Linked DNA regions of Homo sapiens. The main gene of each other region encodes a partner of the protein of the gene in region 2 in a complex. Each region holds a gene or a part of one and is shown on either strand. Other genes may lie near its edges.

What was found.
Region 1: SGF29 (region 2) and KAT2A share a complex: the UniProt entries of both Homo sapiens proteins name them as parts of the ADA2A-containing complex.
Region 3: SGF29 (region 2) and YEATS2 share a complex: the UniProt entries of both Homo sapiens proteins name them as parts of the ADA2A-containing complex.
Region 4: SGF29 (region 2) and KAT14 share a complex: the UniProt entries of both Homo sapiens proteins name them as parts of the ADA2A-containing complex.

The regions. Positions count from the first base shown.
Region 1 is NC_000017.11:42,118,345-42,125,927, reverse strand, and holds the start of KAT2A (histone acetyltransferase KAT2A), read left to right. Parts: upstream 1-4,560; 5' UTR 4,561-4,623; coding exon 4,624-4,962; intron 4,963-5,098; coding exon 5,099-5,222; intron 5,223-5,557; coding exon 5,558-5,703; intron 5,704-5,808; coding exon 5,809-5,898; intron 5,899-6,209; coding exon 6,210-6,391; intron 6,392-6,491; coding exon 6,492-6,683; intron 6,684-6,686; exon of another isoform or gene 6,687-6,874; intron 6,875-7,524; coding exon 7,525-7,583. Other genes in the region: RAB5C (ras-related protein Rab-5C), read left to right, coding at 30-145; HSPB9 (heat shock protein beta-9), read right to left, coding at 2,598-3,077. UniProt on the Homo sapiens protein: Protein lysine acyltransferase that can act as a acetyltransferase, glutaryltransferase, succinyltransferase or malonyltransferase, depending on the context.
Region 2 is NC_000016.10:28,577,914-28,584,936, forward strand, and holds part of SGF29 (SAGA-associated factor 29), read left to right. Parts: intron 1-3,141; 5' UTR 3,142-3,156; coding exon 3,157-3,231; intron 3,232-6,999; coding exon 7,000-7,023. UniProt on the Homo sapiens protein: Chromatin reader component of some histone acetyltransferase (HAT) SAGA-type complexes like the TFTC-HAT, ATAC or STAGA complexes.
Region 3 is NC_000003.12:183,749,779-183,756,801, forward strand, and holds part of YEATS2 (YEATS domain-containing protein 2), read left to right. Parts: intron 1-2,294; coding exon 2,295-2,475; intron 2,476-4,344; coding exon of another isoform or gene 4,345-4,347; coding exon 4,348-4,587; intron 4,588-6,749; coding exon 6,750-6,911; intron 6,912-7,023. UniProt on the Homo sapiens protein: Chromatin reader component of the ATAC complex, a complex with histone acetyltransferase activity on histones H3 and H4. YEATS2 specifically recognizes and binds histone H3 crotonylated at 'Lys-27' (H3K27cr).
Region 4 is NC_000020.11:18,161,843-18,168,865, forward strand, and holds part of KAT14 (cysteine-rich protein 2-binding protein), read left to right. Parts: coding exon 1-397; intron 398-534; coding exon 535-1,103; intron 1,104-7,023. UniProt on the Homo sapiens protein: Component of the ATAC complex, a complex with histone acetyltransferase activity on histones H3 and H4. May function as a scaffold for the ATAC complex to promote ATAC complex stability. Has also weak histone acetyltransferase activity toward histone H4.

The DNA.
Region 1 (7,583 bases), on a different chromosome or scaffold from region 2:
ACAAATGCACTTTTCCCCCTCCCAAACAGCTAAGAAGCTTCCCAAGAACGAGCCCCAGAATGCAACTGGTGCTCCAGGCCGAAACCGAGGTGTGGACCTCCAGGAGAACAACCCAGCCAGCCGGAGCCAGTGCTGCAGCAACTGAGCCCCCCTTGCCTGCCCGCTGCCCCCGCCTCCTCCGCCTGAATGACCCGACTGGAATCCACTCTAACCAATCGCACTTAACGACTCGGGCCACCACTGGGGGGGCAGGGGGAGGGGTCCACCATGATTTCTCCATATAATTTTGATCATAGGCCGGAGTGAGTCATTCCACCTGCACCTTTCTGTACAAATACTAATTCAATTTTAAGTCTTAAGTCACTTTTTTAATATATATGATCTTCTGCTCTTCCCACTTCCTCCCCTTTCTACTGCTCTCCCATTTTCCCTTGCTGGGAGTAGCCACATGCTCTTGCCCCCCAACCCTTGTATATGGGGACAGTGGGGTCAGTGCAGCTACCCTTTCTTTCCCTCCTGCGGAACAGCGGACCCAGCAAGAGCATCCACATCCTCACTTTGTTCGGAGTGGTCTTTGGTTTGGGCGGTGGGGCAGACCTTGGGAAGGGGCTTAGGAAGGGAGAGGCAGCTCTTCCTTCAGCTGGCTCTCATCAGGCTGCAGCCCCCTCCCCGCTCCCACCTCCCTGCTGGGAAACCACAGCATTATCACAGCATTATTGTGACAGCCACGAACCCATTGCCCACAACCCCTCCACCCTCGGTCACCCCAACCTCTGGCTCTGAGCCCTGTTCTGACCAAATCATGATGATGAGTATTTGGGGGTGGGTGGGTAAGGGGGGGAGTGGGAGGGGACGGAACCAACTTTTTCTGTATTTTGTATTGTATGTTTTCTTCAACATGTAACCAATCAGTATCTTGTCAATATAGTCAGCCGATCGATCGACCTCACAATTGTCTTCCTTGTCTTTCTCTGGCAGTTTATCAGACAGTGCCCTCTGTAGTTGAAGTTGATTTAAAATGAACCACTGAATCTTGTTAAACAAAATCTTCCCCTCTAATGTGAGGGGATGCTGGTGGTCATGGTAACCAAGAGAAAGAGGCTCTTACTGTTAGCAGCTCCGATGAGGTAGCTGACCTGGGCTGACCAAGTTTGAAGTTTCAGGGCCCGTGTTCACTTCTCCACCTCCCTTCCCCTCCCCCACCTACCAGATCATACTGGGGTGACATGCAGTGTGTATTTGATGATCATTAGTCTCTGAAACACCAGAAACAACCTCTTTGGGTTTTTTTTGGTTGGTCTTTACCAGTGAGAGGGTCTGGATCCTCTCTCTTCCTGAAGAGGAAGGAATCCCAACAGCCCCTGGAACGCTGGACTGGTCTTAAGGCCAAGACTGTAGCCACTGGCTTTCCTCACCACCTCTGTCCACGTCACCCCCCCACACCACATCCAAGTTGCCCCAGTCCAGCTCTCTACTGGTTCTGGAATCAGGTCTGGGCACTCAGCTCTCTGCTGCTACCTGTTGGAGCTGCTGCTCAGCTAGGGCCACACTCTCCTCCAATTTCTCCCAGGGCCACAGAGGCCTGATTCCCTTTTTTTTTTTTTTTCTTTTTTTGAGACGGAGTCTCTGTTACCCAGGCTGGAGTGCAGTGGTGCTATCTCAACTCACTGCAGCCTCCACCTCCTGGGTTCAAGCGATTCTTCTGCCTTAGCCTCCCAAGTAGCTGGAATTACGGGCACCCGCCACCACGCCCTGCTAATTTTTGTATTTTTAGTAGAGACAGGGTTTCACCATGTTGGCCAGGCTTGTCTCAAACTCCTGGCCTCAAGTGATCCACCCGCCTCAGCCTCCCAAAGTGCTGGGATTACAGGCGTGAGCTACCACAGTCGGCTTTTTTTTTTTTTTTTTTTTTTTTTTTTTGAAACGGAGTCTCACTCTATTGCCCAGGCTGGAGTGCAGTGGCACGATCTCGGCTCACTGCAAGCTCTGCCTCCCGGGTTCACGCCATTCTCCTGCCTCAGCCTCCCGAGTAGCTGGGACTACGGGCGCCCACCACCACGCCCGGCTAATTTTTTTGTATTTTTAGTAGAGACGGGGTTTTACCGTGTTAGCCAGGATGGTCTCGATCTCCTGACCTTGTGATTCGCCCGCCTCGGCCTCCCAAAGTGCTGGGATTACAGGCGTGAGCCACCGCGCCCAGCATTTTTTTTTTTTTTTTTTTTTTTTTTTTTTGAGACAGAGTCTCACTCTGTGGCCCAGGCTGGAGTGCAGTGGCAGGATCTTGGCTCACTGCAACCTCCCTCCACCTCCCAGGTTCAAACGATTCTCTTGCTCAGCCTCCCGAGCAGCTGGGATTACAAGCACACACCACCACGCCTAATTTTTGTGTTTTTAGTAGAGATGGGGTTTCACCATGTTGGCCAGGCTGGTCTCGAACTCCTGGCCTCAAGTGATCTGCCCGCAGAGGCCTGATTCTTGGTGGACCACCACCTTGAGGGTGCCTTTCCTGCCTCCTGTGCCTCCAGTCCCTCTACCTCTGACTTCCATCCCCAGAAAAGACAACGGACACCAAGGCTGCTGCACATCGCGTCGTTTGTTTACCGGGTCAGGTTGGAAGCCTTAGAGCCGAGGCTCCCGAGTCTCGGGGACGGTCCTGTTTGGGCTTCAGGGAGGGCCAGCGCCACACACTGGCCTCTGACCCACAGCTGCCCGGAGGGGGTCAGGCAGCAGGTCATGGCGGTAGGACTCAGGTTGGACGGGAGCATTTTCCGGTGCACCTTCTGTGACATGCGGTAACTGACCCTTTCCGGGTCCCTGACGTCCAGTTGCTGCTGTCCGGTCACCATCAGCCATTGGCCATCCACCTGCACCACCAGTTCCTCCGGGGCGAAGCCGTGGGCATCCAGCTTCATTTGGAAACCGTCTCTGGCATGGTCATTGTCCTCCTGAGCCGCTGGACTGTCCCTGAGCAGCCGCACCGGCATTGTGGCCACCCGGTTCCGTTCAGCAAGGCCCACGCTGGGACACCGGGATGCCACCCGGCTCTCGTTGGAGAAGGTGTTACCGACTCTCTGCATCCGAGTCAGCAACTAACTGCTGTCAAAGGGCGCGAGGCTCCCAGCGCAGAGCTAGGCGCACGGACGCCCGGAGAGGAGGGACCTCGCGCGGCCTACCCGAGCTCAGCTCCGCTCGCTCGGTTCCCTTCGCTTCTGCAAACGCAGGCGGAGTTCGGGATCAGCCACGCCCATCTTACCTCCAAGAGCCAGACTGTCAGCGCCCTGGCGCGCCCGCAGCTGCTCTCCTCCCAGACTCCGACCCTTTCTCCGCCCTTCCCCACCTTCGTTAATGGACCCGGGGAGGCCGCAGCTGTGAAGGAACTGGATCCACGACCAGGCCAGACCCGAGGGAGCCGCACCCTGGCGCAGCCAACAGCAGATTGATCCCCCAGCTGGAAGGGGGCTGTCTTGCCTTCTAAGGACCAGGCCTGGGGCAAGGATTGTTCCTAGACAGAGCCAGGGGAGGGCGGCCTTCCTGGGTCATCCACCCTACCTCTCCCTGACCACCCACAACCCCACGCGGACACGCGACACGAGGAGGTGGACTGGTCTCTCCGGCTGCATTAATTCTTCCCGGGGCGTCCTGTGCTGCAGGCTGTGGTCTGGGCTCTGGGGCCACAAAGATGAAGACGCAGTTGGGGCTTCAGGAGAGTGGCTCCCAGTGCACAGAGAAAGACCTAGCCCTCCTCCGCCTCACCCTCCACGTCAGTAGCCTTCTTGGTGACCATCATAACCACAGCTATGCCTCTGGTGCTGTTATTTGATAATTTTTTTTTTTTAAGAGACAGGGTATCATTATGTTGCCCAGGTTAATCTCGAACTCCTGGGCTCAAGCGATCCTCCCATCTCGGCCTCCCAAAGTGCTGAGATTACAGGCGTGAGCCACCTCGCCCAGCCTATAAACTTTATTTTTTATTTTTTTGTAGAGATTGGTGGGGGGGGTCTCCCAATGTTGCCCAGCCTGGTCTCGAACTCCTGCAGGGCTCAAGCTCTCCTCCCGCGTGAGCCAGCCACCCGGCCTGATAAACTCCTTTTTGTTGAGTGATACTATTAAATACATACATACTGAAAAGCGCAGAAAAAGGTGCAGGTGAATGTCAGGAGGAGAACACACCCAAGTCACCACCACACTACTGCAGAACTGTTGCTACATCTCATCTCTACCGCAGCTGCAATTCCGTGTCCGGAGCCGCGTGGGGCAGGGCCTGTGCGGGAGTTGGGGGAGGGGGTTAAGTGGGAGACAGGCGCGTGAAAGAGGCAGACCCCACGATTCTCCCCAAGACTCCTTGTCCCCAAGAGGACAGCCATCGTGACTCTCCCGGACTCCATTAAAAGAGATTACAAGTGAAGAGGGGTCAATGTGGGGCCTTCACTCAGGCCTCACTTGGCTGTCAGGGGCCAAGAGACAGGACAGAAAAGTCTGGAAGCTGGAGGCAGTGAGGGGAAGGCGCGGGAAGACTACAACTCCCGTCATGCGCCGCGCAGCAACGCCTGCGCACTGAGCGCTGGTTGCCCATGCGGCCCTAGGGCTGGGAGCGCGGCGCCGCTCTCCGCTGCGGGGGAGGCCATGGCGGAACCTTCCCAGGCCCCGACCCCGGCCCCGGCTGCGCAGCCCCGGCCCCTTCAGTCCCCAGCCCCTGCCCCAACTCCGACTCCTGCACCCAGCCCGGCTTCAGCCCCGATTCCGACTCCCACCCCGGCACCAGCCCCTGCCCCAGCTGCAGCCCCAGCCGGCAGCACAGGGACTGGGGGGCCCGGGGTAGGAAGTGGGGGGGCCGGGAGCGGGGGGGATCCGGCTCGACCTGGCCTGAGCCAGCAGCAGCGCGCCAGTCAGAGGAAGGCGCAAGTCCGGGGGCTGCCGCGCGCCAAGAAGCTTGAGAAGCTAGGGGTCTTCTCGGCTTGCAAGGTGGGGGCGGGGCCTGGGGTGAAGGGGCGGGGCTTGGGGCATCCCAGGGCTCTGGTGGGAATGGGGTCAAAGCTCTGGCTGCGGAGCGGCTCTTGCCCCAGAGGTATAGGTCATTGACTGATCCTTCCACCTCCAGGCCAATGAAACCTGTAAGTGTAATGGCTGGAAAAACCCCAAGCCCCCCACTGCACCCCGCATGGATCTGCAGCAGCCAGCTGCCAACCTGAGTGAGCTGTGCCGCAGTTGTGAGCACCCCTTGGGTAAGGCAGGCAGCGCCCTTGGAGCTGGGGGCAGGTGCTGGGTCCTGCTTGGACAGGGTGACAAGTGCCACAAAGCTTCATCTCTGAAAAAATCAAAGATGCCTCGAAGGAGGGATTGGGTTGGGGGGGGGTGTGCACCAAGGGGGGAGAAAGGAAATCTCTCAGCCCAGAACAGGCCCAGGCAACCCAACGGTTGATATCGGAGCAGTCAGTCTCACTGTTGGTCACACTGGTTGGAGGAACAGAGTGTGTATCTTGCTTGGCTGTGAAGAGGGTCAAGAAGCCTTGTTGATTTCTTCTATCAATTTTTCCTAACTCTGCCATCTGTCTTGCAGCTGACCACGTATCCCACTTGGAGAATGTGTCAGAGGATGAGATAAACCGACTGCTGGGGATGGTGGTGGATGTGGAGAATCTCTTCATGTCTGTTCACAAGGAAGAGGACACAGACACCAAGCAGGTCTATTTCTACCTCTTCAAGGTGAGCTTCCACTAAAGGAGGGTGTGAGTGAAGGAGGTGGGGCCTTGAGGGGTTGTCTGCAGCTCTGCCCCCCTCCCCTCTATGCCCCCTTCCTCTTCTCTCTAGCTACTGCGGAAATGCATCCTGCAGATGACCCGGCCTGTGGTGGAGGGGTCCCTGGGCAGCCCTCCATTTGAGAAACCTAATATTGAGCAGGTGAGATAGGGGAATTGGAGATAGCGGATAGGAGAATTGGGGACAGCTTGGAGGAGTGGGGAGCCTGTGTTCTCCATTCTCCTCAAGCTGAGAACACTGGGGAGGTTCAGAGAAGGAAGGGTGTTTTGTGCTAACCTCAGGGTGGGCATGGTGGTAGGGAGGGGGCAGAGCTTTTCTATAGAGAGCACCCGAGAGAGAGAGGAGAAGGAGAACCTTGTCCCTGGCCAGGGAGCATCTTCCTTTGTCTAAGAAGGCCCTGCGGGCTGCTCACACCTCATTCCTGGTTTTATCCCCCACCCACCCCTTCTCAGGGTGTGCTGAACTTTGTGCAGTACAAGTTTAGTCACCTGGCTCCCCGGGAGCGGCAGACGATGTTCGAGCTCTCAAAGATGTTCTTGCTCTGCCTTAACTACTGGAAGCTTGAGACACCTGCCCAGTTTCGGCAGAGGTCTCAGGCTGAGGACGTGGCTACCTACAAGGTCAATTACACCAGGTAGGCCCAGCCAGGGGCAGCTTCGGGGGAGGCTTGCAGGCCCAGCCTGGGTTCAGTGGTTTCCGCCCTCACCTGTCTCCCCCTCGACCCCCTACTCCAGATGGCTCTGTTACTGCCACGTGCCCCAGAGCTGTGATAGCCTCCCCCGCTACGAAACCACTCATGTCTTTGGGCGAAGCCTTCTCCGGTCCATTTTCACCGTTACCCGCCGGCAGCTGCTGGAAAAGTTCCGAGTGGAGAAGGACAAATTGGTGCCCGAGAAGAGGACCCTCATCCTCACTCACTTCCCCAAGTAAGGCTCCTTCTGGCCTACCAGGATTTGGCCCCAAGTTCACATCCTCCCTGTTGTCCCCTTTTTTCCAGGAAGGCTTCCTGGATTGGTCCCTCCTCTCCCTCCATGGGCCTTTTGGGATCTGGGCGTCTACCTGGCAGACTTGCCCATGGCCCAGAAGCAACTTGCTAGTACTAGTCTGGGGATGGCAGGTACATAGCCCAAGCTAACGCTGCCCCCACCCGACCCTACGCCCCAGTAGATGTTACTAATTGTTTCCCATGGGGGCCTGGACACAGCCTCAGACTCCTTCCCTGCACAACTCTCCAAGAAACCAGACCTTAAGCTTGAAGTGAAACCAATTTCTACTCCTGTTCTGGTCTTTTCTGTACCATTTTCTTCTGTTCGGCCACACCTTTTAAAATCTAGGCCATAACTCCCCTGTTCAAAAAACCCTGACTGACTAATCCTGGCTCTCTAGTGCCCCCTGCCATCAGGTGGGAACAAGAGATGGCAAGGTGGGGTGGAGTCTGAGCCCATTTTGATACTGAGGGCAGTGAGGGGGCTCAGGGTGACAAGGTGCCCTGCCTGGCCACACAGCACAGGATGACATCAGCTCAGACCTGTCTCCCTGTGCCACACAGCGTGGTGAAACTGAGCCTGTTTGATCTCTGTCCTGGATGTGTCCTGTCCTCTTACCTTCAATTGGAGGCTCCCAGAAGACAGGGGCTGTCCCCTCTCTCAGGTCCCCAGTTCCCTAAGAGCAGGGTCTGTCTCTGACCAGCCTCCAGTCCCTCTGCTGCCTGGCCCAGGCTGCACCCTGGAGAACAGAGTTGTGGGACAGACTGTGTCCTCCCTACAGATTCCTGTCCATGCTGGAGGAGGAGATCTATGGGGCAAACTCTCCAATCTGGGAGTCAG
Region 2 (7,023 bases):
TTGAAAATTAGTCGACCATTTCTGGTTTCTCAGTTCTATTCCATTGAACTAGATGTCTTTGCTTACAACATCTTGATTACTGTAGCTTTCTTTTTTTAAAGTTAAAAAATTTATAAAGTAGAAGTGGGGCTCAGGCTCGTCTGGTGGCCTAGGCTCGTCTGGACCCCTGGCTGCAAGTGATCCTCCCGCCTCAGCCTCCCAAAGTGCTGGGATTACAGGCGTGAGCCTCTGGGGCCTGGCCACAATTGAGTTTTGTTTATTGATCTCGTATCCTGCAACTTTGCTATGAGTTCTAACCTTGTCTTAGTCCTAATAGTTGTTTAATGGATTCCTTAGGGTTTTCTATATACAAGGTCATGTCATCTGCAAATAGAAATAGTTGTACTTCTTCCTTTCCAATGTGGATGCCTTTTATTTCATCTTATTGCCTCATTGCCCTGGCGAGAGCCTCCAGAACAATGTTGACTAGAAATGACAAGGGCCCATGCTCATCTTGTTCCTGACTTAGGGGAAAGCTTTTAATCTTTCGCCTTTAAGTCTGATGTTCGTTGTGGGTTTTTCATAGATGCCCTTCATCAGGTTGAGGAGGTTACCCTCTATTCCTAGTTTGTATGTTATTATACTTTTAAATAGCAGCAGCAGAGCATGTAAGAAGATATGAATAAATACATGGCGAGAGGTTCGCAGTTGATTAAGTGGGGGGAAGAGTTTACTCCATTCATCGTGAATCTGATCTCTGTGAGTAGGAGGATGTGTTAGTTGAACAACTTTAAAAAAAAAAAAAAAAAAGAGGGCGAGGTGGGTGGATCACGAGGTCAGGAGTTTGAGACCAGCCTGGCCAAGATGGTGAAACCCCGTCTCTACTAAAAATACAAAAAATTAGCCAGGCAAGGTGGCGGGTGCCTGTAATCCCAGCTACTCTGGAGGCTGAGGCAGGTGAATCGCTTGAACCCAGGATGCCGAGGTTGCAGTGAGCAGAGATCGCACCGCTGCACTCTAGCCTGGGCGACAGAGCAAGACTCTATCTCAAAAAATAAATAAATAAAAAATAAAAATAGAGACAGGGTCTTGCTGTATTGTCCAGGCTGATCTCGAGCTCCTGGACTCAAACCATCCTCCTACCTTCGCCTCCCAAAGTGCTGGGATTACAGGTGTTAGTCACTGCCCCCAGCTTGAACAAACTTTGTAAGATGCAGGCTATTGTGCAAAATTTTAGCACTGTAAAAAATATCCCCTTATTTTATCAAATATACCTTTATCTTGAGGCATATGTCTATTTTCACCTACTTGTAACTTACACTCTTGATTACTTTTGGTTGTCTTTTTACTCTTGTTCTAATTATCTTTTTTTTTTTTTTTTTTTGAGACGGAGTCTCACTCTGTCGCCAGGCTGGAGTGCAGTGGCGTGATCTCGGCGCACTGCAACCTCCATCTCCCGGGTTCAAGCAATTCTCCTGCCTCAGCTTCCTGAGTAGCTGGGACTACAGGTGCCCACCACCATGCCCAGCTAATTTTTGTATTTTTAGTAGAGACAAGGTTTCACCATGTTGGCCAGGATGGTCTTGATCTCTTGACCTCATGATCTGCCCTCCTCGGCCTCCCAAAGTGCTGGGATTACAGGCATGAGCCACCACGCCCGGCCCTAATTATCTTTTATTGTACAGAAGCATTTTATTTTCATCAGAGTACATTCATCTTGATTGAGATATTTTACAGTAGTTTCTCTCCCCATGCTGGCTGGGCGTGGTGGCTCACGCCTGTAATCCCAGCACTGTGGGAGACTGAAGCAAGCAGATCACCTGAGGTCAGGAGTTTGAGACCAGCCTGGCCAACATGGTGAAACCCCATCTCTACTAAAAATACAAAAATTAGCTGGACATGGTGGCACACACCTGTAATCTCAGCTACTCAGGAGGCTGAGGCAGGAGAATTGCTTGAACCTGGGAGGCAGAGATTGCAGTGAGCCAAGATCACACCACTGCACTCCAGCCTAGGTGACAGGGCAAGACTCCCGTCTCAAAAAAAAAAAAATTATCTTCCCACTATAGTAAGAAAGTAACAGCGTTTTATGACTTGGAAAGTGTCTTCATATAAAATCTTATTTGAATCTCCCAAAATATAGCAGAGATGATCCCCATTTTACAGATTAAAATATGGATACCAGAAATGTTTGAATCATTTGTCAGGATATTGGCAGCAGAGCAGGGGCTAAGGGCATGCTATCTTTTTAAGGCACTTCATATTAATTTTTGTATTTATATACAAAAATTATACACTCCTTGACTCCTTGACTTCGTCGAACATATGACATTCAAACATATCAATAGGGTGGAGGAGAATCCAAGGATAGCTTGCCACTGTATTCATTTCTTATGGCTGCCATAACAAGTTACTGCAAGCTGGGTGGCTTAAGACAAGAGAAATTTATTCCATCACAGTTCTAGGGGCCATAATTCCAAAATCAAGATGTCAGCTTGGTTCCAAAGACAAGGGATTGTTGCTTCTTGGAGGCTTAGACGGGGCCGTTACTCCGCGCATCTCTCCCGGCTGGATGGGTGGCTGCCGGCAGTCCTTGGCATCCCCTGGCTTGCAGCTGTCCAAGTCCAGTCGCTGCTTCTGTCTGCACCTGGCTGTGTGTCTGGATTAAGGGCACACCCTATTCCACTATGACTTCATCTTAGTGACATCTTAAATACTTCTCCAAAGACCCTAATTCCAAACAAGGTGACATTACAGGTACCATGGTTAGGACTACAATGTATCTTTTTATTATTACTATCTTTTAAAGGGATAGGGTGTCACACTGTCATGTAGGCTGGAGTGCAATGGCACGATCGTAGCTCATGCAGCCTCAACCCCCTAGGGCCTAGCGATCCACTCACCTTAGCTTCTCGAATAGCTGGGACTACAGATGTGTGCCACTATGCCGGGCTAAGTTTTTAATTTTTTTGTAAAGACGGGGTCTCCGTGTTGCCCAGGCTGGTCTTGAACTCCTGGCCTCAAGCAATCCTCCCGCCTTGGCCTCCCAAAGTGCTGGGATTACAGCATGAGCCTCCAGGCCTAATGTATCTTTTGAGGGGGCACAGTTCAGCCCACAGCAGCCACTAACAGAGTTCTCTTCTGTCCTCGCTCCCCCACCAGGTGCCCCTGTAGACAATGGCCCTCGTGTCTGCCGATTCCCGCATTGCAGAACTTCTCACAGAGCTCCATCAGCTGATCAAACAAACCCAGGTAAAAAGTCACCACCCTCCATTCCCAGATGGGAACATGGGCTTTGATGCTGAGCCGTGAAGTGGGGGTGGCATTTGTGTTCAGAGAGATTGGACTCGCAGGAACCAAAATGACGTAATAAAAGTGAAAGGAGGGGAATTTGGTGTATGGCTACCATTCCTGTTGGATTTTCTACCATGTACAGGATTTCATGATTCATTTTGTTTGACAGCTATCCTGAGATAGAATTCACATGCCATACAACGCACCCATTTAAAGTGTATAATCCAGTGGTTTTTCGCAGCTCACAAAATTGTGCAACCATTAGCACGATCAATTTCAGAACATTTTTAACACCCAACAAAAATGCCCCATATCTTTTCCTTCCACCCTATTAATCCAGGCAAACAAAAACACTCTTTTTTTTTTGGAGACGGAGTCTCACTGTGTCACCTAGGCTGGAGTGCGGTGGCGCGATCTCAGCTCACTGCAACCTCTGCCTCCTGGGTTCAAGCGATTCTTCTGCCTCAGTCTCCCTAGTAGCTGGGATTACAGGCACACACCACCATGTCCGGCTAATTGTTTTTGTATTTTTAGTAGAGACGGGGTTTTGCCATGTTGGCTGTCTCTACTAAAAATACAAAAATTAGCTAGGCTTGGTGGCGGATGCCTATAATCCCAGCTACTGGGGAGGCTGAGGCAGGAGAATCACTTGAACTCGGGAGGCAGAGGTTGCAGTGAGCCGAGATGGCGCCACTGCACTCCAGCCTGGGTGACAAAGCAAGACTCCATCTCAAAAAAAAAAAAAGCCATTTTTCCCCTATTTGATATCTTTTCTTTCACAGATACAAGGGAGATGCGTATTGGTGCCTGTAGCTCACTGCAGGCTATCGGGCATGCTCTGCCACATTTTGCCCACGATACTCAGGGTTTATAGCTACACAAGGATCAGTTTGCTGGCAGTTGTGCACCGCACAGCCAGGAAGGAGTAGATCCCAGAAATTCCTTCCCAAATGGTATTCCTTTTAGACGTAACCTGGAGAGTAAGAGTCAGAAGATGCCGGCACTCATTGCTAAGTGAAAGATGCCAGTCTGAAAGGTTACGTGCTGTGTATTCCAACTGTAAACGAAAAGCAAAACTAGAGAGTGAAAGGATGAGCGGTAGCCAGGGCCTTGGGAGAGATAGGATGAAAGGGATGGATAGGTGGAGCACAGAGGATTTTAGGGGGTGGAACTCTTCTGCAGGGTACCATGATGGGGGGCACGCAACATGATGCGTTGTCCAAACCCATAGAACGGCAGAACACACAGAGTAAACCATCATGGGGATGGATGTAGTTAATTATCTAACAGTATTGGCTCATCAGTTGTTACAAACGCACCACTCTAATGCAAGATGTTAACAATAGGGGAGACTGCGCAGGGCAGAGCAGGTATACATACAGGAACTCTGTGCCATCAGCTCAGCTTTTCTGTAAACCAAAACTGCTCTAAGAAGAGTTTATCAATAAAATACATTGTAAAATAAAGGAAAAAAGGGCTGGGCGTGGTAACTCATGCCTGTAATCCCAGCATGTTGGGAGGCTGAGGCGGGTGGATCACCTGAGGTCAGGAGTTTGAGACCAGTCTGGCCAAATGGCGAAACTCCATCTCTACTAAAAATTAGCCGGGCGTGGTGGTACATGCTTGTAATCCCAGCTACTAGGGAGGCTGAGGCAGGAGAATCGCTTGAACCTGGGAAGTGGAGGTTGCAGTGAGCCAAGATCGCACCACTGCACTCCAGCCTGGGCGACAAGAGCGAAACTCCGTCTCAAAAAAATAAATAAAGGAAAAAAAAGATACAGGCAGATTACGCATTCCATTCAGTCATCCACAGTTAGAACAGTTTATCATCATCCCATACAACCAGGGTGTCCCTCAGACAGCTGCTGCCGAGTTCCCAGACTCCCATCTCACCCGTCAGCTTCCAAAAGCAGGCGTGGTCCTGACAGACACAGGGCTTCGCCCTTTCAGGCACCCAGTGTAACTGACCTAAGAGATGGCATTCTCTCTCTCTCAGCCTCTCTTGAGGTATGAGTACAATATTGGATTTCCCTCATTGCATAACCCATTTAATTTGTTCTGTTAACTCGGCTACTGTTTCTCCTCTCCATTTGTGATTGGTTTTCACCCAAACTTTTCCACCTTTGTAAGGGATGTTAGCTTTGGCCACTGTACCTGGTCCAGATTGCAGCGGCAGCAGTACTAGTCTAGCAAGTATCCCCCCCCAACCCCAATCCATTCCCATTTATATAGGGTGGGGTTACACAGGTATGGACTATTGGCTGTCTTGAGCACTAGGCAGCTAGCTAGCTGTGTTCACTGTTAACCTCATTTTGCAGGTTGAGGTAAAGGCGCAACCCACCCATCAGGCACTTAAAAATTCTCACATAAAGGCTAAAAAGCATAGTCATAATTTCTTTCTTAGGATCTGTCTCAGTTTCCAGCATCTGCAGTTGCAGCTCTGCTCCCAGGATGACTGATATGGGAGGAATTGCACCAGCATTCTTCCCCACCCCTTCTTCTCCACATCAATTGATCATACCTGTATGTGTCTATTTCTGGACTCTGAATTCTGTTCTGTTGATCTATATGCCAGTACCACACCATCGTGATTACCGTAGCTTCGTAATAAATTTTGAAATTGGGAAGTATGAGTTCTCCAACTTTTTTTTTCTTTTTCCAAGATTGGGGATAATCTGGGTCCCGTGAATTTCCATATGAATTTTAGGATGAACTTGTCAATTTCTGCAAAGAAGTCAATTAGAATTTTGATGGGGATTGCGTTGACTGTATAGATTGATTTGTCTCTTTGATAAAGGACTATCATTAAAGATATCACTTATGATTTAACTTTAATGCCTTCTTTTTTTTTTTTTTTTAACAGTCTCACTCTGTCACCCAGGCTGGAGTGCAGTGACATGATCTCAGCTCACTGCAACCTCAGCCTCCCGAGTAGCTAGGACTATACGCACATGCTACAATGCCCGGCTAATTTTTGTATTTTTAGTAGAGGTGGGGTTTCATCATGTTGGCCAGGCTGGTCTTGAACTCCTGATCTCAAGTGATCTGCCCACTTTGGCCTTCCAAAGTGCTGGGATTACAGGCTTAAGCCACTGCACCAGGCCCTTTAAGGCCTTTTATAATGCTTTTGCATTAGTCAAAGGAGAAAATCATCTTGAACTCCTGAATTTGGATTTAGAAAATGAGGGCCATAGCCGGGCGCCCTTGCCTGTAATTCCAGCACTTTGGGAAACCGAGGCAGGTGGATCACGAGGTCAGGAGTTCAAGACCAGCCTGGCCAAGATGGCGAAACCCTGTCTCTACTAAAAATACAAAAAATTAGGCCGGGCGCATTGGCTTACGCCTGTAATCCCAGCACTTTGGGAGGCCGAGGCAGGCGGATCACGAGGTCAGGAGATCGAGACCATCCTGGCTAAGACGGTGAAACTCCGTCTCTTCTAAAACTACAAAAAATTAACCAGGCGTGGTGGCGGGCGCCTGTAGTCCCAGCTACTCGGGAGGCTGAGGCAGGAGAAAGGCGTGAACCCGGGAGGCGGAGCTTGCAGTGAGCCGAGATCGTGCCACTACACTCCAGCCTGGGCGACAGAGTGAGACTCCATCTCAAAAAAAAAAAAAAAAAAAGAAAATGAGGGCCGTATTTTGGGGATGGGGACTCTGGCCTGGCTGGCAGGGTACCACAGCAGCACAAAGGGCCACCGTCATGTCCTGCTGCTCTTTTCCTTACAGGAAGAGCGTTCGCGGAGCGAACAC
Region 3 (7,023 bases), on a different chromosome or scaffold from region 2:
TGCCACCATGACCAGCTAATTTATTTACTTACTCGTTTATTTATTTATTTATTTTTTGAGATGGAGTCTCGCTCTGTTGCCCAGGTTGGAGTGCAGTGGCTCGATCTCGGCTCACTGCAAGCTCCACCTCCCGGGTTCACGCCATTCTCCTGCCTCAGCCTCCTGAGTAGCTGGGACTACAGGCACCTGCCACCACGCCCGGCTAATTTTTTTTTTTTTGTATTTTTAGTAGAGACGGGGTTTCACTGTGTTAGCCAGGATGGTCTTGATCTCCTGACCTCATGATCTGCCTGCCTCGGCCTCCCAAAGTGCTGGGATTATAGGCATGAGCCACCGCGCCCGGCCTACTTGTTTATTTTTTGTAGAGACAGGGTCTCACTATGTTGTCCAGGCTTGTCTTCAACTCCTGGGCTCAAGCTGTCCGCCTGCCTTGGCCCCCCAAAGTGTTGGGATTATAGGCATGAGCCATTGTGCCCCGCCCCTCTTCCTGTTTTAGGCTGAATAATACTGCATTGTATGTATATACCACATTTTGTTTATCCGTTCACCTGCTGATGGACACTTGCGTTGCTTCCAGCTTTTGGCTGTTGTTAATAGTGCTGCTATGAACGTAGGTGTACAGGTATCTATTCAAATCCTTGCTTTCAGTTCTTTTGGGTATATACCCAGAAATGGAATTGGCTGGATCCTATGGTAATTCTATTTTTAGAGGAACCACTGCTATATTTTTTCGTGGTAGCCGCACCATTTTACATTCCCACCAACAGTGCACACGTATTCCAGTTTCTCCACGTCTTCACCAGCATTTGTTAATTTTTTTTGTATTTTAATTTATAGTAGTTATTCTGTTGTTTGTGATGTGATATCTTGTGGTTTTGATCTGTGTTTCTCTAATCATTAGTGATGTTGAGGATCCCTTCATGTGTTTGGTGACCATGTGTTTATCTTCTTTGGAGAAATGTCTATTCAGAGACATTCAGAAAATGTCTTTGCCCATTTTTAAATTAGGTGGTTTGGTTTTTGTTGTTGCTAAGTGACAGGAGTTATTCATATATTCTGGATAGTAACCCCTTACCAGATAGATGATTTGCAAATATTTACTTCCATTCCGTGTTATATTTTTGCCTTTTCACTCTGTTGATTGTGTCCTTTGATGCACAGAAGTTTTTAAGTTTGATGTCCCGTTTGTCTATTTTTTATTTTGTTGCCTGTGCTTTTGGTGTCGTGTCCAAGAAACCATTACCAAATTCAGTGTCATGAAGCTTTTCCCTTACATTTTCTTCTAGGAGTTTTATTGTTTTAGCTTTTATGTTTCGTTCTTTGATCCTGAGTTAATTTTGGTATATAGTGTAAGGTAAGGGTCCGATTGCATTCTTTGGCATATGGATATCCAGTTTCCCTGGCACCATTTGCTGAAAATACTGTCTTTTCCCCCACTGAATGGTCTTGGGACCCTTGTCAAAGATCATTTGACCATATATGTGAGGATTTATTCTGTTCCATTGGTCTGTATGTCTGTCTTTATGCCAGCAGCATACTGTTGATTACTATGGCTTTGTAATAAATTTTGAAATCAGGAGTCTGAGACCTCCAACTTTGTTCTTCACCTTCTCTCCCTTTTTTTGTATTCATCATATAATAATCAGCAATAGCCATTTAATCAGAGTTCACTAATTAAATCTTACTCTGTCTAGAGAAATCTGCTGTATTATATCAGAAGGTACTTATTGAGCGCTGGTCCAGGTGCTGGGAATACAGAAATGAACACGGTAGCTTCTTCCTTCAGAGTCAAATTCTTAGTGGCATTGAAAATGGGGAGGGTAGACAGTAAACACAAAAGCAAATAAAATTACTTCAGTTACAAATAAGTGCTGTGAAGATAAGAGTAGCTGGGGGATAAGGAAGTAGCTTATTCTTGGGTGGTTAGGCATGGTCTCTCTGAGAAGGTGCTACTTCATTGAGACCTGCTGGTGAGAAAGGCAGCCATGCAAAGATTTGGAGGAATAGCGTTGTAAGGAGTAGCAACAGCAAAATCAAGAGGTCCCAATTTTGTGAATAATTTCACTGAGATTTGTATGTTAAACCAGATTAGATTTTCACTGAGGTATGTGTCTGTTAAGCCAGATTAGATTACCTTCTAGAATAAATCCTTTAGTTCTTCAGATTGAAATTGCCTTTGAAGTGTGATTAGAAGTTATCTCTCACATCCCGGAGATTACATTCTTGGACGGGACTTGAGCTTTCTGTGACATTGATGATGGACTCATGAGCCTGATTGTTGCCCAATTGTCTAGGTAGTGGATGTTGAACTCCATCGCCATTCTCTCGGAGAAGACTGTATCTATCCTCAGTCCTCGGAGTCTGACATCTCTGATGCCCCTCCATCTTTGCCTTTGACCATTCCAGCCCCAGTGAAAGCTTCTTCACCAATAAAGCAGTCACATGAGCCAGTACCCGATACCTCTGTGGAGAAAGGTAATACAGCAGTTTTCCTTGCATAGCGTTGTTCTGAGGCATTCCTTTCCCATTTGCTGCTTTCAGAGACCTATAGTATATGGAAAATAACTTTGCTATAAGTGGACATGCTGCCTCTACTACACAGTTCTGTTATGAAAGCCAAATTTCCACTCTTGTCAAAAATATTTTTCCGGCCGGGAGCTGTGGTTCACACCTGTAATCCCAGCACTTTGGGAGGCCAAGGCGGGTGGATCATGAGGTCAGGAGATTAAGACCATCCTGACTAACACGGTGAAACCCCGTCTCTACTAAAAATACAAAAATTTAGCTGGGTGTGATGGTGGGTGCCTGTAGTCCCAGCTACTCGGGAGGCTGAGGCAGGAGAATGGCTCGAACCCGGGAGGTGGAGCTTGCAGTGAGCTGAGATGGTACCACTGCACTCCAGCCTGGACAACAGAGCGAGACTCCATCTCAAAAAAAAAAAAAAAAATTTCCATGAAGTTTTACTGACATATTATAAAATGTAAAAATAGCTAAAAAACATAAGATTTTTAAATTTATTTTTATTTTATTTTATTTTGAGATGGAGTCTTGCTCTGTTGCCCAGGCTGGAGTGCAGTGGCATGATCTCGCCTCACTGCAACCTCCACCTCCTGGGTTCAAGCAATTCTCCTGCCTCAGCCTCCCTGTTAGCTAGGATTACAGGCGTCCACCACCGCTCTCGGCTAATTTTTGTATTTTTAGTAGAGATGGGTTTTCACCATGTTGGCCAGGCTGGTCTCGAACTCATGACCTCAGGTGATCCACCCACCTTGGCCTCCCAAAGTGCTGGGATTACAGGCATGACCCACCACGCCTGGCCTAAAACAGATTTTTATCACTTGATAATTCCTTATAATGTATTACAGGAAGACTTTATGGTTCAGCTTCTGATTGTGCGAGCAAGAAACTTGGATATTAAATACCTGGTTTTACTTAAGAAAAGATTCATCACCAACAATGTATTTTGACCATGCCATTTTTAAATTTAACAAATATATGTGTATAAATACATATTTTAATGTTCCCATATATAAGCATAAAAGATATAAAATTGATCTTAAATGTTTTATTTCTAAGCCTATATTTTAATGTGGTTAGTATTATAGTTCTTTTATAAAATCTCAACTTTATTCCTCTTTAGATTTCAATTGCATCTTTTTTATGGGCATTTAATAAGATACAAGAGGGGCCGGGCACGGTGGCTCATGCCTGTAATTCCCAGCCTTTTGGGAGGCTGAAACCATCGGATCACCTGAGGTCAGGAGTTCAAGACCAGCCTGGCCAACATGGCAAAACCCCGTCTCTACTAAAAATACAAAAATTAGCCAGGGATGGTGGTGCATACCTGTAATCCCAGCTATTCCGGAGGCTGAGGCACAAGAATTGCTTGAACCCGGGAGGTGGAGGTAGCAGTGAGCTGAGATCACACCACTGCACTCTAGCCTGGGTGACAAGTGAAATAATGTCTCAAAAATAAGTAAATAAATAAGATAGGAGGATATCATTAGATTTAGTGAATGCTTTCTAAGATTTTTTCTTCTCTAAACAGTTTTTCAGTTTATATATTAAAAAATGGAGGAACATAAGAACTTTTGTTCTTTTTATGTTATACATGGTTTATAGTTAATAATGTTTTCAAGTTTTTTTAAAAAAGCACTTTAAACATTATTCTAAGCATATATATTTTTCACCAAAAATATGAAGGGATGATTGATTGTATTTATTTTGCTACCAGTACATGGTTTAAAATGGTGTTGAAATAATGCATTTTTATTCTTTTTCCACAACGGTAAGGTTTTATTTCAAAGCGATTGATGACTTGCCGTTTGCCTCTTTCATCTCAAGCAGGATTCCCAGCTAGCACTGAAGCTGAACGACACACTCCGTTTTATGCTTTGCCATCTTCATTGGAAAGAACACCCACCAAAATGACTACATCCCAGAAAGTTACCTTTTGTTCCCATGGCAATTCAGCTTTCCAGCCAATAGCATCAAGCTGCAAAATTGTTCCACAAAGTCAGGTTCCTAATCCTGAGTCACCTGGAAAATCCTTCCAGCCCATCACCATGAGCTGCAAGATTGTGTCAGGTATGCAGATGTTTTGAAGACAGTGTATGTGGAGTTGACTGGATGTTAAAATTGTTGGAACAACAAAACAAAATACTTGGCTTTTTTTCTCTTAAGTTCTTCTAAGCAGTGTTATGTTTAACAAAAGGAAGTTTATCACTGTTGATTGGCAAAGCTGTCACAAGGCAAAAACAAAGCTCATTCATACGGAAATGAATGGAGGAGATAAATGAAACTCAAATGGTCAAATTTTTGTCTGCCAGAATCAGCACAGGTAAAATGTTTGCTAGGATATATGGCTGAAACTAAGGTGTAGGAATCGTGTTTGGGGATTATATACATGGAAACCACAGTGACTAGTGATAGAAAAAATTTAGAGGCCTTTGGCATGGAGTTAAATTTTAAGGGTTAGAGTTGGTTGGGAATTGAAATGCTTTATTCTGTCTGTAACCACACTAGAAAATTATTCATTCCTATTGTCAGTAGGTAGTTCTGAGTTGTCTTGTTCACTAAGATTGGATTATCTTTTGCCTTGTGATAGTTTCATTTTATGTTAGGTAAAATTTAGTAGGAATATATGGTTTTGACTGTTCCACCTTAGAACAAAACATGTTTGTTAAAAGGCAATTGGAAATAACCAGGAAGTATGAGGACTTCTGTATAATAGTTAAATGAAGGGGGGAAAAAAAGAATGTTTGGTGTTGTAAGTAGACAGCTAAGTAGAAATAGGATCCAAATCTTTGATGAGAGATAAATAGCTTCTAATTGGTAGGCAATTTTTTTTTTTTGAGATGGAGTTTCACTCTTGTCACCTACGCTGGAGTGCAATGGCGCGATCTCAGCTCACTGCAGCCTCCACCTCTCTCGGGTTCAAGTGATTCTCCTGGCTCAGCCTCCCAAGTAGCTGGGACTGCAGGCACGTGTCACCACTCCCAGCTAATTTTGTATTTTTAGTAGAGACGGAGTTTCACCATATTGGCCAGGCTGGTCTTGAACTCCTGACCTCAGGTGATCCACCTACCTTGGCCTCCCAAAGTGCTCCGGTTACAGGCGTGAGCCACCGTCCCCTGTCATTGGTAGGCAATTTTACCTACCAGGTAGAAAAATTTTGGAACTTGCTACTTCAGAGGTGGAATAGGCTGAACATATAAATTGATTTGAAGTTTAAAGAAATTCATGGATGACGTTTGATCAATAAAAGACAGTAGAGGATGTTTAACTGTCAGTAACTTTTGAGAGTATTTTGCGGGAACACGAATCTTTCTGGGTTACGGCTGTGACATAGTATTGACAGAGACTTTTATTCTGGGTAGGTGAATTTCATATTTTCCTATTCAAAACAAGACACCAGGTTCTTAAATCTAGCTGTTTACTTACTGATTTTCTTCCTTCCTTTCTTTTTTTTTTTTTTTTTTTTTTTTTTTTTGAGACAGAGTTTTGCTCTTGTTGCCCAGGCTGGAGTGCAATGGCACGATCTCGGCTCACTCCGCCACCCGGGTTCAAGCGATTCTCCTGCCTCAGCCTCTCGAGGAGCTGGGATTACAGGCATGCGCCACCACACCCAGCTAATTTTGTATTTTTAGTAGAGACAGGGTTTCTCCATGTTGGTCAGGCTGGTCTCGAACTCACAACCTCAGGTGATCCGCCTGCCTCGGCCTCCCAAAGTGCTGGGATTACAGGCACGAGCCACTGCACCTGGTGTCTCATGCCCGGTCTCTAATTTTAGTGTCTTCGAGTATAACCAGTACTATAAAAGCCTGCCTATGGTGTTAAAAGATTTATCATATCAAGATTCAGCAGTTACAAAAAAAGGTTCAGCAGTTTTGCACTGCTGTGTAAAGCACTGCTTTCTGAACTATAAGGTGCATACCAGGAGATCTTGTTGAAGTGAGATTTATGTTTAGTAGGTCAAGGATGGGACCATAAAATCTGTTTCTTACAATTTCCTCGATGATACTGATGCTGTTGATCCATGGATAAGGATGCAGAGCATGAAACATACATCCTCTGCCTCCTTTGTACCTCTGTTGCTGCTCAGTACCGGGAGCACGCAGTATCCATTTTATTTTCCCAATTTGTTACCTTTGTCCTGGTGGCACTGACCTTCTTCCTTGTCCTCGACATCTTCTTACGTGAGTTGAATATGTGTATTTTGTTTGTATTCTCTCTTTTTAATTAATAAGGTTCCCCAATATCAACTCCAAGCCCATCACCATTGCCTCGAACCCCGACTTCCACTCCAGTCCACGTGAAGCAAGGCACTGCCGGCTCTGTTATTAATAATCCTTATGTTATCATGGACAAGCAGCCGGGGCAGGTGATTGGAGCCACCACTCCCAGTACAGGTGTGTATTAGATCCATATTTGTACCATCTAAAGGGTTTGATCTTTATTAAAAATGTAATCCTGCCATGACTTGGTAGCCATGTAATTGGAGAATGAAATCTCCCGTAAACG
Region 4 (7,023 bases), on a different chromosome or scaffold from region 2:
CCCATCATTACTGTTGAGGGACTTAGAAAACGAGCAAGTCGGAATCCTGTGGAATCTGCCATGGAATTAAAAGAGAAAAGGTCTCGAACTCAGGAAGCAAAAGACATTAGAAGAGCCCAGAAGGAGGCCGCTGGCTTTCTTGACAGGAGCACATCTTCTACCCCTGTAAAATTCATAAGCCGAGGCCGCAGGCCAGATGTGATTCTGGAAAAAGGCGAAGTGATTGACTTTTCCTCCTTGAGCTCCTCTGACCGCACCCCGCTGACAAGCCCATCTCCTTCTCCTTCTCTGGATTTCTCTGCCCCTGGTACACCTGCCTCTCATTCTGCCACACCTAGCTTGCTTTCAGAAGCAGATCTGATTCCAGATGTGATGCCCCCACAAGCCTTGTTTCATGGTAAGAGTTTGTTTGCTTTGCTCTTTTATTTTGGGTATGGGCCATGGTATAAATGTACAAGTTTTCACCCCGTGGGCTGTGTGCTCTGCATTTCTTCCTTCCTATGTCTTGATGACACTGTTTTGTACTCTGCACAGATGACGATGAGATGGAAGGCGATGGAGTCATAGACCCAGGGATGGAGTACGTCCCACCCCCTGCTGGGTCAGTAGCTTCTGGGCCAGTGGTTGGGGTCAGAAAGAAGGTCAGAGGCCCTGAACAGATAAAGCAGGAGGTAGAGAGTGAGGAGGAAAAACCCGACAGGATGGATATTGACAGTGAAGACACAGATTCAAACACATCTTTGCAAACAAGGGCTAGAGAAAAGAGGAAGCCTCAGCTGGAGAAGGACACAAAGCCGAAAGAGCCCAGGTATACTCCCGTGAGCATCTACGAGGAAAAGCTGCTGCTCAAGAGGCTGGAAGCTTGTCCCGGTGCTGTTGCCATGACTCCGGAAGCTCGGAGACTGAAACGCAAACTGATTGTCAGACAAGCGAAAAGGGATAGGGGATTACCACTTTTTGACTTGGATCAAGTTGTTAATGCTGCTCTTTTGTTAGTTGACGGGATTTATGGAGCCAAAGAAGGAGGAATTTCCAGACTTCCAGCTGGACAAGCCACGTACAGAACCACCTGTCAGGACTTCAGAATCCTTGACCGATACCAGGTGAATGCAAGCACTTGCTGTAAAGCCCTTGGGGGCAGGAGTGGAGGTGGGGCAGGCAGCACTAGGCATTGGACATGGTTATGCTGTGACCTTTTAAATCCTGAGTAATTTGGGAAGAGAAAAGTAAAGTGCAAGGGAAAAAAATACAAAAATCGCTGGGCTTTATTTTTCAGAATTGTTCATTGTAAGTACACCTGAATACATCTGAGTTTTTCTTTTCCTTTAGGCATTCAAACATAACCTATAAGTTTTCTTCATCTGTCTCTCTTGTCTCTCTCTCTCTGAGGATAGATATGCATGGTTTGTGTCGTAGCTTTGACAAATTTGTTGAGGCCATGACGGTGTCTCTGACACTGTGTTGCAGAGGATCTGAAGGTGTGTAGACATCTGCGAAGGACAACATGAAGAAATAGCAGCCAAGGGATCAGTGTGGTATCAGTGTTGCTCAAAGGATGGTCGGTGGAACCCAAATTTTGTGGATGCTTCTGGGAACAATTAATTCCACTTAGAACTACCTGTATATACTCTCCCACTGGGAGGAACAAGAGGCCTTATTCCCTTTATCTTTGCTAGCACTTGACACTAACCAGCCTTTAAGTTTTGCTAATTGGCTGGCTGTAAAGTGAAATCTTGTTTTTTATTTATATTTCTTTGGTTACAGGTGAGGTTAAATTTCCTGGTTGTTTCTTTGTGAATTGCCTGTTTGGAGTCTGCATGTTTTTCTCTCTTCTCTGGAAGCTAGTGGGATCTGCTCTTCATTGCTGGTGTTCTGGTATTATTCAGTGATGTGCCGTATGTAGGGCTTATGTCTTTCCTTGTGCTGGACATGTGGTGTGTGGGCCCTTTCAATTTGAAACTTTCTTTCCTGAGTATGGAAAAGTCTTGATTTCCTATCTTCTATTTTTTCTGTTCTCTCATTTTAGAACTCCCCATTATTTGGATATTGGACCCTGTAGATTAAAAGTTGGCAAACTTTATCTGTAAAGAAATAAGTATTTCTGCCAGATAGTAATTATTTTAGGCTTTGCCGGCCACAAAATCTCATTCGGAACTCTTCAACTCTGCTGTTGTGATTGGAGAGCCGTAGTGAATGAGTGTGGCTGTGTTCCAGTAAAACTTTATCTACTAAAATGGGCAGTGGACTGGATTTAGCCTGGGGGCTATAGTTTACCAAGATCCCTACTCCAGATAGATCCTCTTTTCTTTTTTTTCCTAATTCCCATCTTTCCTGGGAAGCACAGTATTAACTGGCCTGCCTACCAGGAGCCAAGTCGGGAGGGCCCAGGAGCCCATCGTTTAGGAGGTAAACTGACTCTCCCTGTCTTCAGTACAGTACTCCCACCCTTGGCTTCCTGTGTCCAGAATCTCCCTCTTGAGCCTCTCCAGTCTTCTGCCCGTGGAGGGAAAGATCATTTCCTAGATGTGGGCAGTATAATTACTATAGGGGTATAATTGGAGCCTTTAACCTCTTAAAGAGCCTCACAATCCATAGTCATACCCCCCAGGCTCTAAGCCTGATGCCTTAGGTGACTACACTTCCCTGAGGCTGTGTTTTGTAAATCACCCTGCTTAGCTTCACCACTGGCTTAGGTATTGGCTTTCTTTGGTCTGTTAAGTCATTTGCTGCTTGTTCATATGCTTTTGTTAGTCATCTATTCACTTGTTCTTGTTCTTTTTTTTTTTTTTTTTGAGACATGGTCTCTCTCTGTCACGCAGGTTGGAATGTAGTGGCACAACCACAGCTCATTGCAGCCCCGAACTCTCAGGCTCAAGCAATTCTCCCACCTCAGCTTCCCAAGTAGCTGGTACTATAGGCACACACTACCACACTCAGCTAATTTTTTTTTTAATTTTTATTTTTAGTAGAGACAGGGTCCTACTATCTTGCCCAGACTGATCTCAAACTCCTGGGCTCGAGTGATCGCCTCAGCCTCCCAAAGTGCTGGGATTACAGGCATGAGCCATTGCGCCTGGCCAATATTCACCTGTTCTTTGTTCTTATTCTTGTGGGCCTGTCTGTTTACTGCCTATACTTAATTTTTTAAATTGTAAGATGTGTCATACAGATAGAAGGCAGCATAGAAATATGGTATAATTTAGATATTAGTAAAATAAATGCCCATGTATTCATCTCCTGGATAAAGAGTGTTGTAAACACCTTAGAAGTCTCCTGTGTACTTTCTGTTCCCCTCAGAGGAAGCCACTTTGACTTACAGTGTTAATTATTCTTTTGCTTTTTAAATGTGTATGTCTCTAAATGATATACTTTTCGTTTAAAAAAATACTGAGTAGCAAGCATAAATCTAGCTGTGTAAGTAAATTGCCACTATTAGATGAAGTTTCCTGGAGAAGATAAGCTAAATAGTCATTCTGGGTCATTGTTGTGGACTGAATTGTGTCCCCCTTAAGCATATGTTGAAGTCCCAACCCTGGTACCTATGAATGCAGCCTTATCTGGAAATAGGCCCTTTGCAAATATAATTAGCCAAGACCACCAAGGATTGCCGGCAGCACCAGGAGCTAAGAGAAGGGCACAGAACAAATTCTCCCCTAGTGCGTACCCCAGAGAGCATAGCCCTGCCCACACTGTGACTTCTGACATTTGGCCTCTAGAACTGTGAGACAATAAATTCCTGTTGTTTTAAGCCACCCAGTTTGTGGTGCTTTGTTCCTACAGCCCTGGGAAACTAATACTTACAGTGATGTTCTGGCTTCGGCTTCCATGAACCCCTTCTGAGGTAGTCACTGGCCAAGGTCACTAGGGAGTCCTGGGAAACATGAGGCTCACCATAGCGTATGCATCAGCCAGGGCTGTGATGTATACCAGAGATGCGGCAGAAATCTGGGCAGAGGAAGTGGGATCCTCTGTATTTCCTGCCTGAGCTGACAGCTTCCTTCCAGCTTGCAGAAGGTCAAAGCAGTTATTTGTGGAGTGAGCATCATCAGCTGGTCTTTGGGGTGGGCATGGGTGGTGTACAGGAGGCTCACCTGTACATGGTGAAGACAAGCTGAGCGTAGATAAGATTCTGGGCCACGACGCCATAGGTTTAAAAGATGGTCAGTGGCAGCAAGGACTTAAGGATGATAGCCTCAATATGTGTTAGAAATACCAAAATTGTTAGAAATAGATAATCGGTGCTGCGAAGAAAAGTCAGCACAGAGACAAAAGGTATCTCAGCAAGGCCATCTTTTCTTTCTGTAGAAAGGGTGCTCAGTTGCAGATGGAACAAAGGTGAGAGCACACTTGAACACAGGAAAAGCAGACATATTTATCCCTTACGCACTTGGGTCGTCCTTACTGCTGTGTCCTGCATCCACTGGCTGGAGCGGGACCTCACAATCTTAAACTGATACCCGATTTGCTAATAGCCTAAAACTTTCCTAAATAGGTAAGTGCAGGGAAGAACAAAGAAGTTGCTTACAAAAGGTTTAAGGAAGCAATAACATTTCCAAATAAGGAAGGGGCGTAGACTGTGGGCTGGAACGTGCCTGTGAGCATGTCCAACGGTTACAGAGGATAGGGCTTAACAAAGAGTTATTAGCACAAGGCAAGGAGACTTGAAGAAAGTTAGTCTTTAAAAGAAACTGTTATTTCTAACACTTATGATTTATTCTTTAACAAGAAGGAAAACTTTGAAGAGGAAACTTTTTACTTTCTACACTATGTCTGCCCCTTGGGTCACACTTGTTCACCCTTTGTTGTGAAACTCAGCAGGGGTGTTGGGATCTCCCCTCTCTGGAGATTCTTTTGCCCTCCTCTGTATTTGATCTCCTGTTTCCTGTGGCCCATCTTTACCTTGTTATAGGTTTATTCCCTTGTTCTTAATGACTTCCTGAGAAAAGCTGCATGGGAAGTAAAATTTGAGACCAACATACTGAAAAGACCCTCATTAAGTGAGGTTGAACCTGGAATTCCATACACAGCCACATTGTCTAGGTGAGACCTCTGTTGAGGACCACTGCACTTCCTTTAGGTTTTTTCTTTGAATCTAGTCAGAGTCCCTGGGGAATAATCTTCTGGGCTCAGGATGCTGGTTGCCAAGTTGGGGAAGAGGGACCTTAGCATTCAGCTTGTCAGGTACTCACACCTCAGCCCTCCAGCTGGATCCCCTGTTAGTTCTCTAGAGATCAGACCTCCTGGCTTCTGGGGGAGGGCAGCCACCCAGCAACAGGGAGTGGAAGGATCTGGGGATCATACTGCTTTCCACATGGTGTTTGCCTGCTCCTTATTTTATTGTCCCATTTGGTCCCAGTTCCAGAGGAATCTGCTGGCTGCTGCCTGGATTTTAGCGGGTTCTGTAGTATAGATTGGGTTAGTTCTCATTTAGCTTACCCAAAGCCACTTTGGGATTTTGGTGTTAAATCAGTTACTATTTGTCCATCTGTTTACCAGTTACTGTTCTAATTAAGTCAGCTTCTATAGTTTTAGTGGGATTTTGGGAAGTAGTAAAGCTTTATATGCTTGTGTTTTAACCCAGTCTTAACTTGGAATTTTAGTATAAATTTTAATGTATTTACACAGGGAGTGGCTGTAAATGCATTTATTCAATCCATACTCTTGTTTTATATTTATTCTTTGAATGTATTCGTAGCTATAAGTTTCTCAATAAGTGCTGCTTTAGCTGTGATTCTTGACTTTTGAAATGATGTGATTTTATTTCCAATCAGTACTTGGCATTTTGTTATTTTTCTCATTATTTCCTCTTTAATCCAAAGGTTATTTAGTTGTTTTTTGGTTTTCAGATATATGAGAATTTTAAGCTATGTTTTGGTAATTGATGTGATTTCTAATGTTGTATTATGATCAGAGAAAATAGTTTATGTGATGTTCATTCTGTACCATAAAGAAAGTTATACATTCTATTTTTATTCTTTTTATAGGTCCTAACTTAAGATACATTTATTTTTCCTTATTCTTTTTTTAATATCATGTGGTTGTCCCCCCAAACAAAAAAGTACATTTTCATGCACTTATCTCTTTTTTTCTTTTGTATTGCTTATTTAAATGACATAAATCTTTACTAAATTATTCACTCGTCCTATTGTTTCTTTCTAGATTAATTTCTTGCTGGACTGCTTTCTCTAACAGTTCTTTAAAAATATGGGCTTTTTGAGGTTAATTTTGAAAACTTATACGACTAAGAATATCTTCATTTCACTTTTTCATTTAAATGATAGCAGTCATATAAAATTGTTATTTTAGTTTTTTCCATTGATATTTTGAAATTATGACTTCATTATCATCTTACATACAGTGTCACTCCTGAGAACCCCGGTACTGATAAGAAATAGAAATTTTTGACTGGGCTCAGTGGCTCATGCCTGTAATCCCAGCACTTTGGGAGGTCGAGGCAGGCAGATCACTTGAGGCCAGGAATTTGAGACCAGCCTGGACAATATGGTGAAACCCCGTCTCTACTAAAAATAAAAAAATTAGCCAGGCCTGGTGGCGCATGCCTATAATCCCAGCTGCTTGGGAGGCTGAGGCTTGAGAATCACTTGAACCAGAGAGGCAGAGGTTACAGTGAGCTGAGATCATGCCACTGCACTCCAGCGTGGGTGATTGGGTGAGACTCTCTCTCAAAAAAAAAAAATTTTTTTTGTTTCTTATCAATTAAGTGGCCTCCTTGTTTTATTCTCCCATCTCCTAAAACTTTCAGAATTTTCTCTTTGTTTTTTATCTTTAATTAGTGCATGTTAAGTGTCTTTTATTTTCTCTTTTTAAAGCTTTGTTTTCTTTTTTCTATTATTTTATTTTCCAGCACATCCAAAACACAGAAATTGTGTTTGTTCTCATTTGTCTTACTTGACAACTCTGTTCTTTTGGTCAGAGGTATTTTATATGCTTCTTGGCATTTATTCTGCTTGGTGTTCGCTGACCTTCCTGAATGTGTGGTTTGGTGTCTGACATTAAATTGGG